2 separate regions of the Homo sapiens genome follow, and region 2 is linked to region 1. The links come from fine-mapping of genetic effects on gene expression. A gene starts in region 1. The other region holds a variant in brackets. All regions are shown on one strand. Distances are between the middles of the regions.

What was found. PIP is the estimated chance that this variant, and not a neighbour inherited with it, causes the effect.
Region 2: its variant is the best candidate, but not a certain one, in a credible set for the expression of TPD52L1 in gastroesophageal junction (GTEx, PIP 0.53).

Annotation. Positions count from the first base shown.
Region 1 is chr6:125,151,263-125,156,646 of GRCh38, reverse strand. It overlaps TPD52L1 (TPD52 like 1), which reads right to left and starts at 2,874. Exons shown (of 7, transcript NM_003287.4): 1 at 2,677-2,874. The coding sequence starts at 2,695. RefSeq lists an enhancer at 1,491-2,078.
Region 2 is chr6:125,177,627-125,183,010 of GRCh38, reverse strand. All of the region lies in intron 1 of TPD52L1 (TPD52 like 1), which reads right to left. LOC100126584 (a long non-coding RNA gene) reads left to right here. Exons shown (of 4, transcript NR_149043.1): 4 at 1-68. Among named protein-coding and RNA genes, the nearest start is that of TPD52L1, 27 kb to the right of the region's middle. The variant G/C (reference allele first, on the strand shown) is at 2,716.

The DNA of each region.
Region 1 (5,384 bases):
AGGCACGCACCACCACACCCAGCTAATTTTTGTATTTTTTGTGGAGACAGCGTTTCACCATGTTGCCCAGGCTGATCTCAAACTCCTGGGCTCAAAAAATCTGTCTCCTCCAGCCTCCCAAAGTGCTGGAATTACAGGTGTGGCTGGCCTTTTTTGTATCTCTCTCTTTTTTTTTTTTTTTTTGAGACAAGGTCTCACTCTTGTCCAGACTAGAGTGCAATGCTGGGATTTTGGCTCACTGTAGCCACAAACTTCTGACCTCAAGCAATCCTCCCACTCCAGCCTTCCAAGTAGCTAGGCCTACAGGCACATGCCACCACACTCAGCTAATTCTGTTTATTTTTTGTAGAGATGAGGTCTCTCTATGTTGTCCAGGCTGGTCTCGAACTCCTGGGCTCTAAGTGATCCTCCTACCTTGGCCTCCCGAAGTGCTGGGATTACAAGTGTAAGCCACTGCACCTGGCCTCTTAAGTATTTATTAAATCTGTTCACTTTTCTCATATCCATTTGCCTTTTTACTAGTCCTCTTTACACCTAAAGTTTCCATCCAGTCATGAGGGGAAAGGAAGAGCACCACAGGACAGCTGGAGATTCAGGTGGGGACTGAAGTTTTACCTTTCCTCCAAAAGTCATAGGCTTTGAGTGAGAATGGGTCCCTCACAGCATCCACTTTGCTACTTTTTACCTATCTGGCTGTAAACAAGGAACTTATTAAAAAGTCATGGCAAAAATTGCAATTACTTTTGCACCAACCTAATACCTTCCATGCTTGTTTCCTCTCTGTAGAATGGGAATGAGAATATGAACTACCTCATGGGACTGCTGCGCACAGGAAATGAGTCCATCAATACATGCAAAGCACGAAGAACAGAGACAGGGACACAATAAACAATCTGCTCTTCTGATTATTGCATACTAGGGTTATAGTTTTTCAGGCTCTCGCTGCACTATGAGGCCCTTTCTTAGCATCAGCATGGCAGTGATTTTACATGTTATTTTTCAAATAGCTATCAAATTAATATTTGTCTCTTCCTCTACTGTAAATTTTATGAAGCAGATACCAAGTCTGTCTTTGCTCTTCTTAGCACAGTGCTTGGCAAAGGAAAGCACTGAAATATTTGTTAAGTAAATCTTGGAAGTAAAGCAAAGCAATAAAGCAAACCAGTGACACCAGTGGTTACCAGTCTGTAGTTTCGGATGTCTTCAGAAGTTGTATGAATGTTTCCTATCTGCTATAGTTCTTCTCCATCCTCACTAATATAAGCTTTCAAATATACCCATGTTCAGGTTCCAAAGATTCCAGTTTGACTGGGATGGGGTTGGCCAAGGCCAGTAATGAAGACTCTCTAAATAATTCTAATATGCAAGTCAGGTTGGAAAGCTCCGGTGCTGCTCCCACCAGCTTCAGTTCTGGCGTGAAGGCCTCCAACCTGACCTCTGCTTTTGAATTTGACCAACTGCCCTCACCCTTGGTTGAATTATCATTTCCTATCTACATAATAGAGGAAAAAATATGGGAAGCGGCAGCTTTACGGGCAGGACTTAGGAGGATGGAACAAACGAGTAAGGTTCGTGCTGTTCAGACAATTGTAATCCTGGCAGCAAACCTGTTGGGCGACTCCAGGCCCACGCAATCGCCAACCCACTCTCATTCAGGGCGTTCTGCCCCTAGAGGGCGAGCGCATCAGGTCATGAACCTTTTTTTTTTTCTTTTTAATGAGATTTTATCTATACTAAGAGCCAACACAGAGTTTCCTACTGTGTAAAAGAATGGTGGCTTTGATTGCCTTAAAGGCTGAACTCCGCAAGCCATCCCTTCTGGGCGTTGCTCCCCAAGGTAGATCACTGAGTCCGTTTCCTTCCCACTTGTCTCTCGCTCCACATCCGCCCACCTCTGCCCCTTTCCACGGTCCGTTTACCCCCATTCTTGAACGATTCCATCGGAATTCCCCAACCCTGTTCCAAGTGTGACCCCAAGATATGAGGCCGCCCTTCCTGAAGCCACCGCAGGCTCCTCCAGCAGGCAGCCCCGGGAGCAGGGAGCTGGGCGGCCGGGGGCCCCGCGCGCCACGGGAGGCAGAGGTCGCTCCCCGATCGCGGAAACCGGGACTCACGTGTGGATCTGCTGGAGGTCAGGGGGCCGGTAACGTTCACCTGGCCTCGGAAGGCGGGTCCCCGAGCGGGAAGCGTCTCGCGCAGCCGGGCTGCGGAGCCACCCCCTCGGCGGGCGATCCTCTCACTCCCTAACTTGGGAGCCACAAGCCGCGAGTCCACGGCGCTGGGCGAAAAGAGTCACATTCCCTCCCCACTCCCTCAAGGGAAAGGGAGCGAAACACGCTTTCCGGACCCGGCACAACAGGTCCTTCGGGCAGCCGCGAGGTTGGGAAGGCCAGGGGCGACTGGCTGCGGAAGAGGGTAGAGCATTCCACGGGCGCATTTCCTGAGGAGGGGCCTCTCCACTTACGGATCCCCTGTCACTTTATTGATCCCCAGACCCACAGCAAATCCTGAGTTTGGGCAGCAGGCATTATACCAAAGGCGCGGGTGGGAGTGGAGTTCTGGATGTGCAACACGGCACCAATCTGTTCTGTCCGAGAGCGAAGTTAGGTGGTGCAGGAAAAGAGCCTTTATGCGCGCCCCAGGACCTGACTCTCGGGGCGATCGGCGACCACTCACCTTGTGCCTGCGCCTCCATGGTGGCTGACTTCGAGCTGAGGGCGGCGGGGACACCCTGGTGCTTCCCAGAGCAGATGGCAGCTGCGCCCAGGCTCAGAACGCAGCTGGCCCCGCCGCTCGCTCCCACTCCTGGCACGCGTGTCGCGAGCGCTGCGCGGAGGGGGTTGGGGACGCAGGCAGCCGCCACTAGCCGCTTCTGGTTACCTCCGCCCCTTCCAGTCCACCTGGCCCAAACCAAGCTGGAACAAGCTCGCCGCTGGGCGCCACCTGCCGGCGCTCTGTACAGCCGGCGGAAGGCACCCACTCCCGGCGCTATAAGGGCATAACGCAGAGATATTGCAGGTTAGGTTCCAGACCCCCGCAATAAAGCGAGTATTGCAACAAAACGAGTCACACGAATTTTTCAGTTTCCTAATGCATATAAAAGTTACGTTTGCACTATGCTGTAGTCTGTTAAGTATGCAATAGCACGATGTCTAGAAAGAGCAATGTACCTACCTTAACTTAAAAAGATATTTTATTTCTAAAAAATGCTAAAGATCATCTTCACCTAATGGGAATCTTTTTGGTGGTGGAAGGCATTGCTTGGATGTTGATGGCTGCTGATTGATCCTGGTAGTGATTGCTGAAGGCTGCAATAGCTGTGTCAATTTCTTAAAATGGGACAACAATGAAGTTTGCTGCATCAATTGACTCTTCCTTTTATGAAAGATTTTTCTGTAGCATGCAATGCTGGTTGATAGCATTTTATCTACATTATAACTTTTTTCAAAATTGGAGTCAATCATCTCAAACCCTGCCATTGCTTTATCAACTAAGTTTATATAATTATAAATCTTTTGCTGTCATTTCAACAATGCTGTGAACAACTTCACCAGGAGTAGATTCCATTTCAAGTAACCATTTTCTTTGCTTGTCCATAAGAAGCAACTCCTCAACCATTCAAGTCTTATGAGATTGAGCAATTTACTCACATATTCAGGCTCCACTTCTAATTCTAGTTCTCTTGCTATTTCTACCATATCTGCAGTTACTTCCTGCTTTGAAGTCCTGAACTCCCAAAGTCATTCAGGAGGGTTGGAATCAACTTTTTCCAAACTCCTGTTAATGTTGACGTTTTGACTTCCTCCCACGAATTATAAATGTTCTTAATGGCATCTAGAATGGTGAATCTTTTCCAGAAGGTTTTCAATTTACTTTGCCCACATCCAACAGAAGAATCACTATTAATGGCAGCTATCTATTTATTTCTTAAATAATAAGGCTTGAAAGTCAAAATTACTCCTTTATCCATGGGCTACAAGATGAATGTTGTTTTGCCAGGCATGAAAACAACATTAATCTCTTCGTACATCTCCATCAACTGTTGAGTGACAAAGTATATTATTAACCAATATTAAGCAATAATATTTAGAAAGAAACATTTTTTGAGCAGTAAGTCTTAATAGTGGGCTTAAAAATATTCAATAAACCATGCTGTAAACAGATGTACTGTCATTCAAGTTTTGTTGTTCCATTTATAGAGCACAGGTGGAATATATTTAGCATAATTCTTAAGGGCTTTAAAATTTTCAGAATGGTAAATGAGCTTTGGCTTCAATGTAAAGTCACCAGCTACTTTTGCCCCTAACAAGAGAGTCAGTTTGTCCTTTGAAGCTTTGAAACCAGGTATTGACTTCTTTGTAGCTGTAAAAGTCCTTGGTAGCATCTTCTTCCAATATAAGGCTGTTTCATCCGTATTGAAAATGTGTTGTTTCGTGTAGCTACCTTCATCAATGATCTTAGCCAGATCTTCTGGAGAACTTGCTGCAGCTTTGACATCAGCCCTTGCTGCTTCACCTTACATTCATGTTATGGAGATGACTTCTTTCCTTAAGCCTCATGAGCCAGTCTCTGCTAGCTTCCAACTTTTCTTCTACAGATTCCTCACCTCTCTCAGGCTTTATAGAATTGAAGAGAGTGAGGGCTTTGCCCTGGATTAGGCTGTGGTTAAGAGAATGTTGTGACTGCTTTGATCGGGTTTGATCCAGACCACTCAAACTTTCCCCATATCAGCAAGAAAACTGTTTCACTTCCTTATCGTTTGTGTATTCACTGGAGTAGCACTTCTACTCTCCTTCAAGAAGTTTTCTTTTGCATTCACAGCTTGAATAACTCGTACAAGAGACCTAGCTTTTGGCCTATCTCAGCTTTCAACATGCCTTCCTCACTAAATTTAATCATGTCTAGCTTTCGATTTAAGGTGAGAGACATGTGACTCTTCCTTTCATGTGAATATTTGGAGGCGATTGTAGGGTTATTAATGAGCGTAACTACAATATTGTTGTGTCTCAGAGAATGGAGAGGCCTAAGAAGAGGGAGAGAGATGGGGAAATGGCTGGCTGGTGGAGCAGTCAGAACACACACAAGATTTATTGATTCAATTCACTGTCTTATATGGGCATGGATCAGGGTTCCCCAAAATAATTACAATGGTAACATCAAAGATCACTCATCCCAGATCACCATAACAGATATAATATAATGAAAAAGCTTGAAATATTGTGAGAATTACCAAAATGTGACACAGAGACATCAAGTGAGCACATGGCATTGGAAAAATGGCACCAATAGATTTGCTCAACATGGGGATGCCACAAACCTCCAATTTGTTAAAAACGCGATAGCTCACTCCTGTAATCCCAGCACTTTGAGAGGCCAAGGTGGGC
Region 2 (5,384 bases), 26 kb before region 1:
CAAAAAAGGGGAATTTGTCTTTTGGCTGTCCTCACAGTTTATAATACTGTGACTGGAATAAAGGACTCAAAAAATAACATTCCTTGCATTCGTAATCCCCACCATCTATGTGTGTGTGAATTCATATGTGATATGTAAACACACAGTAATTTTTAAATACTTGGCACACAAGCTGCTTAAGTTCCCTGGGCCTCTGTTTACTCGTCTGTGAAATGATGATGCCATCACCTACTGCACAGTTGTGGTTTGGAAAAGATTAAATGGAATCGATCCTGTATGGCAATATTTACTGACAGTTCTTCAGGGCTGGGAGGCCAAGAAACTGTAGGGAGAATGGTATCTGACAGCTAATCAAGTGCTCTCAACAGCCTGGCTCTCTCAGCTTCTCTCAGTCAAGTTAACTAAATGTCCCCTTTTTTCATTTACTCCAGAAGCAAAGGCCACTTTAAGAAGCTGTACCCAATGCCTGGAACATCATCACACTTCCAGATGGCAGGTTCCCTCCCTTTCTACCTTAAACCAACTCTCAAAAACCACCCCCTCAATGATCCTCTCCTGACTACCAGAGAGGGTAACACTCATCAGCACCTCACTCTCCTGAAAAATGCTACTCCTGCAACACTTTGCTCACGACTCCAGCTCACGATTCCTAAAAAAGGCAGCTGTGCTTATACATCATGAAAAGTGACAAAAGTCACACAGCGCTGTGCACTTGATCAGTGTTTGCATGCTTTCCCTGGGCTCTACATGCTTCTGATGTTTGCACATCTGCCCTAGAGAAAGCACAGAATTGGTTTAAATTGGTTTGTATGATGCCCAGCCAAGTAATATATGTTTATAAATATTAGCTTTTAAAAGGCCCCAGGCAGTTACTCATCATCTATACCTACCTGCCTTTCAAGTGGCTCTTGGTCATTATCCTTACCTGGTTTCTAGAAAGTACAGCTGCAGAGAAGTACATCTGTGCCTCCCTAATGCCAGAGGTATCCGAGGGGAAGCCTTGTCCATAAAAACTGACATGAAGGGGTGATCTAGACCAGGGCCATCTGGGGAGTGGCTGTGCAAAGCCAACTTTCCAAATCAAACTCCATTGCCCTAAAATTATCCTAATATCCCTGAAACACCTTGGTTCGTGGAGTCAGTGCAGAATCTAATACTGACTTGCTCCCAGTTATCCTGGAAAATCTTGGCCTTTGATGATCTGGGAGAAGACAATATGTCCAAAGATCTATGGCTTGCACCACGCCAATGTAAACTGGCAAGTCCTAGATATTCAGAGTTATCTGTGCTGATACAATTTAGCATCCATTCTAGTTCATCAGAAAAACACTATGTATCCCCAGAATCTATGCATGGCCTAGCACAAGGAAGATGTTTACCAAATGTTTGTGAGTAAATAAATATTATCGTAAAATAACACATGCTTCAATTTAGGTCTTTCCTCAGTACTCGTGTAAAACACATGCATTCTTTATCTGTTCATAGTTTGATATTTAAATCCCATGATGTTGATTAAGTCTCAGTTTTGTTTCCTCTATCTCTATGCTCTCTAGAAAATGGACAGCATATACATAATAATGTAAAACAGCGAGCACCTCTTGACACCATCGCCAAACCCCTCAAATGTCTTAGTTCTTTGTGTATCCTGGCGTAAATGTTTCTTGGTGCTCTTAGAGAGGTCATTCAGTTCTCTTGGTTATTCCTACATCCTTCTGCGTGAGTATCTTATGTTCTGACCTCTTAGTCATCCTGAATTTTGATCTTGACATAGTTCTTTATGCTAATCATTTAGATCAGATATTATCAGGTTTACTACTTAATTACTACAAATTAATTACTATAGTATATAAGTAAATAAAATAAATAACATTATAATATTAACATCGTATTCATTACTGGGTTCACTGCCATCAGATTCTTCACCTTTCCAGATCTTAAAGAGAAAAACAAACTGTAGGCTCGAACCCAACTTCTAAGAATGCCTTAAGCCATCATTTCTTCCCCTTCCTCTGGTTCTAGCTTTGTAATCTGCACAAGAGCAACACCAGCCTCCTTCATGCCACCAGAAAGGGCTGTGAATACAATCAGATATACTGAAAAGCATTCAGCAAACATAAAGACCTATGATAATAGCAAGTCATTTGGCTGCAACTCTGTGGGCCTCCGAAGCAGGAAGCTGCTGTGATTTTCTTCCTTTATTTAAAATAATTCTGAACAAGTAAATAGAAAACATTTTTCATACCTGAATGCATCATTAGAAGGACCAGGAAACAAGTGTTTTATGCAGATGTTAAACAGCTCTCCTTCATGTTTTCCATTGTAAGTTGAATTCTCCAGAATGGGGTAATTAACACTCTCCTTTACGTCCTCTATCAAGAAAAGGCTAAATAGCTCTCCCTCTCTGTGTGTGTGTGAGTGTGTGTGTGTGTGTGTGTGTGTGTATATATAATATATGTGTGTGTGTGTATGGTAAATGTATATTTAAAAACTGTGTGCCACATTTAATTTGCAAATTCTTATATGTGTCAGTAATTTCAGGACCTTCAAAGTTAGGGTAATTTTTGATCAATTTTAAAAAGTTATAAACTGTGCTTGGCATTAACTGTGTCAAACTGACCATAAGAGGTGGTAGATAATTCTGGGAAAGACTCAATTTCAAATAAATCTGTGAAAATGTAATAGTACGAGCCTGACTTTCTTTTCCTATCTTCCTTC[G/C]CTTCCACCTTCTCCCCAAAAAAGAATCAAATTGGCTTATAACATCATATATGATGAAGTAATAATTACATAGAAATAAACAAGGGCTGTGCAGCAGTTTTTAAAATGACAGAGGGAAAGTGAGACATTTGAGGACTCCCAAAGCCTCTGAGTACAACAGTTACCCATGTGATAGAGTGAGAACTGAGGAACAGTGATGACCAGAGCCACAGGTTAAGGTCATGAAAGGGCATTGTCAGGACAGCATCAGAGTTCCGTCCAGTGATGGATACAGGTGCACTCAGACTCCAGGTAGAAAGTAAGTTTTCTAGTTGAAGTGGCTTTCAAACACCCTCCCTTAACAAGATTGTCAAGATGATGCTCCCCAGAGCAACACAGCCCTCTTAAAAAACCACTCCTGAATTTTCCTTAGAATGCCCAAATAATGGTATAGTGCATGAGAGCAGAAAAAAACTCCCTTTAAGTAAGAGCTGCCTTCTTCACATTTCCATCTATAAAGAGAACCCTGGTATTTAGAGTGGGATAACTGAATGAACAGAAAAAGAATTTAGTTAGTTCTATTGAATGAAAATAAATAAATGAAAGTTCATCCTGACATATTGAAGCTATCCTGTGAAAAAGAACTTACACCTGAATATACAACAGGCATGATAAAATGATCAGTATTGTAAAAATAAAACAGTGGTACCGCTCATATTATCCTGAAGCCTAAATACAAAGGGAAAGGGACTATCTGCTTGTGAAATGCTTTGAGGGATTTTTAAAATAAGCATTAAACCATTAATAGTAAGGAAAACTAGCATTCATAGAGTGGTTCTTAGTTTAGACAGTGCTTTGGGACACATAGGGATTCTTATAATTCCTTTTCACACTTGAGGAAGTCCAGTTTTTGAGCAGTTGCCTGCAATCAAGAGGCTGAGTGGGACATGACCCTATGTCATTGAGCTGCACTATTCTGCTTTAAACAACATGTATTGAGGGACTACTTGGGTAAACCCATTGTGTTCTGCAGGACACAGTAATAAATGAGAAACAAAACAGAGCTAAGACATAATAGTATTTGTCCTCTTGAAGTTCTCCATCCTCTTGGAGAGCTAAAATTAATCAGGAAAGTGACTGGGAAAATTGTGTCCACATTTCAGGACAAAACCAAGAGGGATGCCCAGAATTCAGCCAGATATGTCTGTTAAGACTGAGTGGTCTGAAGAATCTGAAGGACTTCAGGGCTGTGTCAAAGGTAGTTCCACTTGGGTGGGAAGTCTGTTTACATTATTTTAAGAGCCAAAGACATACAAAATCCAATCAAATAATGTAGGGCTACAAGTTTCCCTTTGGAAGTCAGGGAGTTGTGGACAAACAATAATAAGTTCAGAGTATTCACCAGAGTCACCAGTGGGAATCCAGTCAACATAACAAGCCAAATCTCCAGTCCTTGTACAACCTCAAGTGTACTCAGAATGTAACACCTCTCTATTGGGAAGTAGCCTAAATTAATTAATAAGGTCTTTGTGCAGAGTATTAATCCTAGAAAAAGGTAGCATCATCTGCAACCACCATTCCACCCATCCCTCACATTTCACATCCTGCCTTCATTGATTTTTTCTTTAACATTTACCCAAATATATATATATATATATTTTGTTTTGTTTTGTTTTGTTTTGTTTTGTTTTGTTTTTAGATGGAGTCTCACTCTGTCGCCCAGGCGGGAGTGCAGTGGTGTGATCTTGGCTCACCACAACCTCCACTTCCCGGGTTGAAGCGATTCTCCTGCCTCAGCCTCCTGAGTAGCTGGGACCACAGGCATGTGCCACCACGCCTGGCTAAGTTTTGTATTTTTAGTAGAGACAAGGTTTCACCATATTGGCCAGGTTGGTCTTGAACTCCTGACCTTGTGATCCTCCTACCTCAGCCTCCCAAAGTGGTGGGATTACAGGCATGAGCCACCACACCTGGCCTATGTTTTTTACTAATTTATGTTGCTTACTATTTGCCCCTTCCTTAGAATTTGAGCCTCACAAGAATAGAAATTTTTATTTTGTTTGCTAATGTTTATCTAGAGCCTAGAGTATTGCCTGGCACACAGGTATATTTTAGATAATTATTGAATGAAGAAATAAATAAAGCAAAATCATAGAACTAGTCGTTTTGTGACAAGGCACTTGAATATTTGTTATTTTATATTATGATCGAAAGAATATGGTCTATTGAGAGACTATCAGGCTTATAATTATAATTTTAAATGTTTAATTTGGTTAATGGCTTAAACTTGGGATTTTTAAGTGGAAATGTTACTAAATTTGTAAGTAATATTGAAACAGCTAAAGAGAATTTTTAGATTCACTTTTTATATACTTAGCTTTTAAATTTATAAGATTTAAGTACTTAGGAAGGCTAGTCAAATAGAAAATTGAAGTGCTTAAATATGAAATTGAGTATATTAATTGAATGTGTATATCAGTTAATATCATACTATTTAAATATCATATTTATCAAAGTCGCTTTAAAAGTAATGGTTTGTTAATTTTATAAATAGTATAACACTTGCAAGCTTCACTTAAAAGTGGAAATTTTCTAAACCTGAAACTTTAATTTAAAAATGTTAACTTTTTAATTAAAAATAAGCCTCTAAACAGTCTCTTCAATAAGACATATGGATGAATAACTGCAAT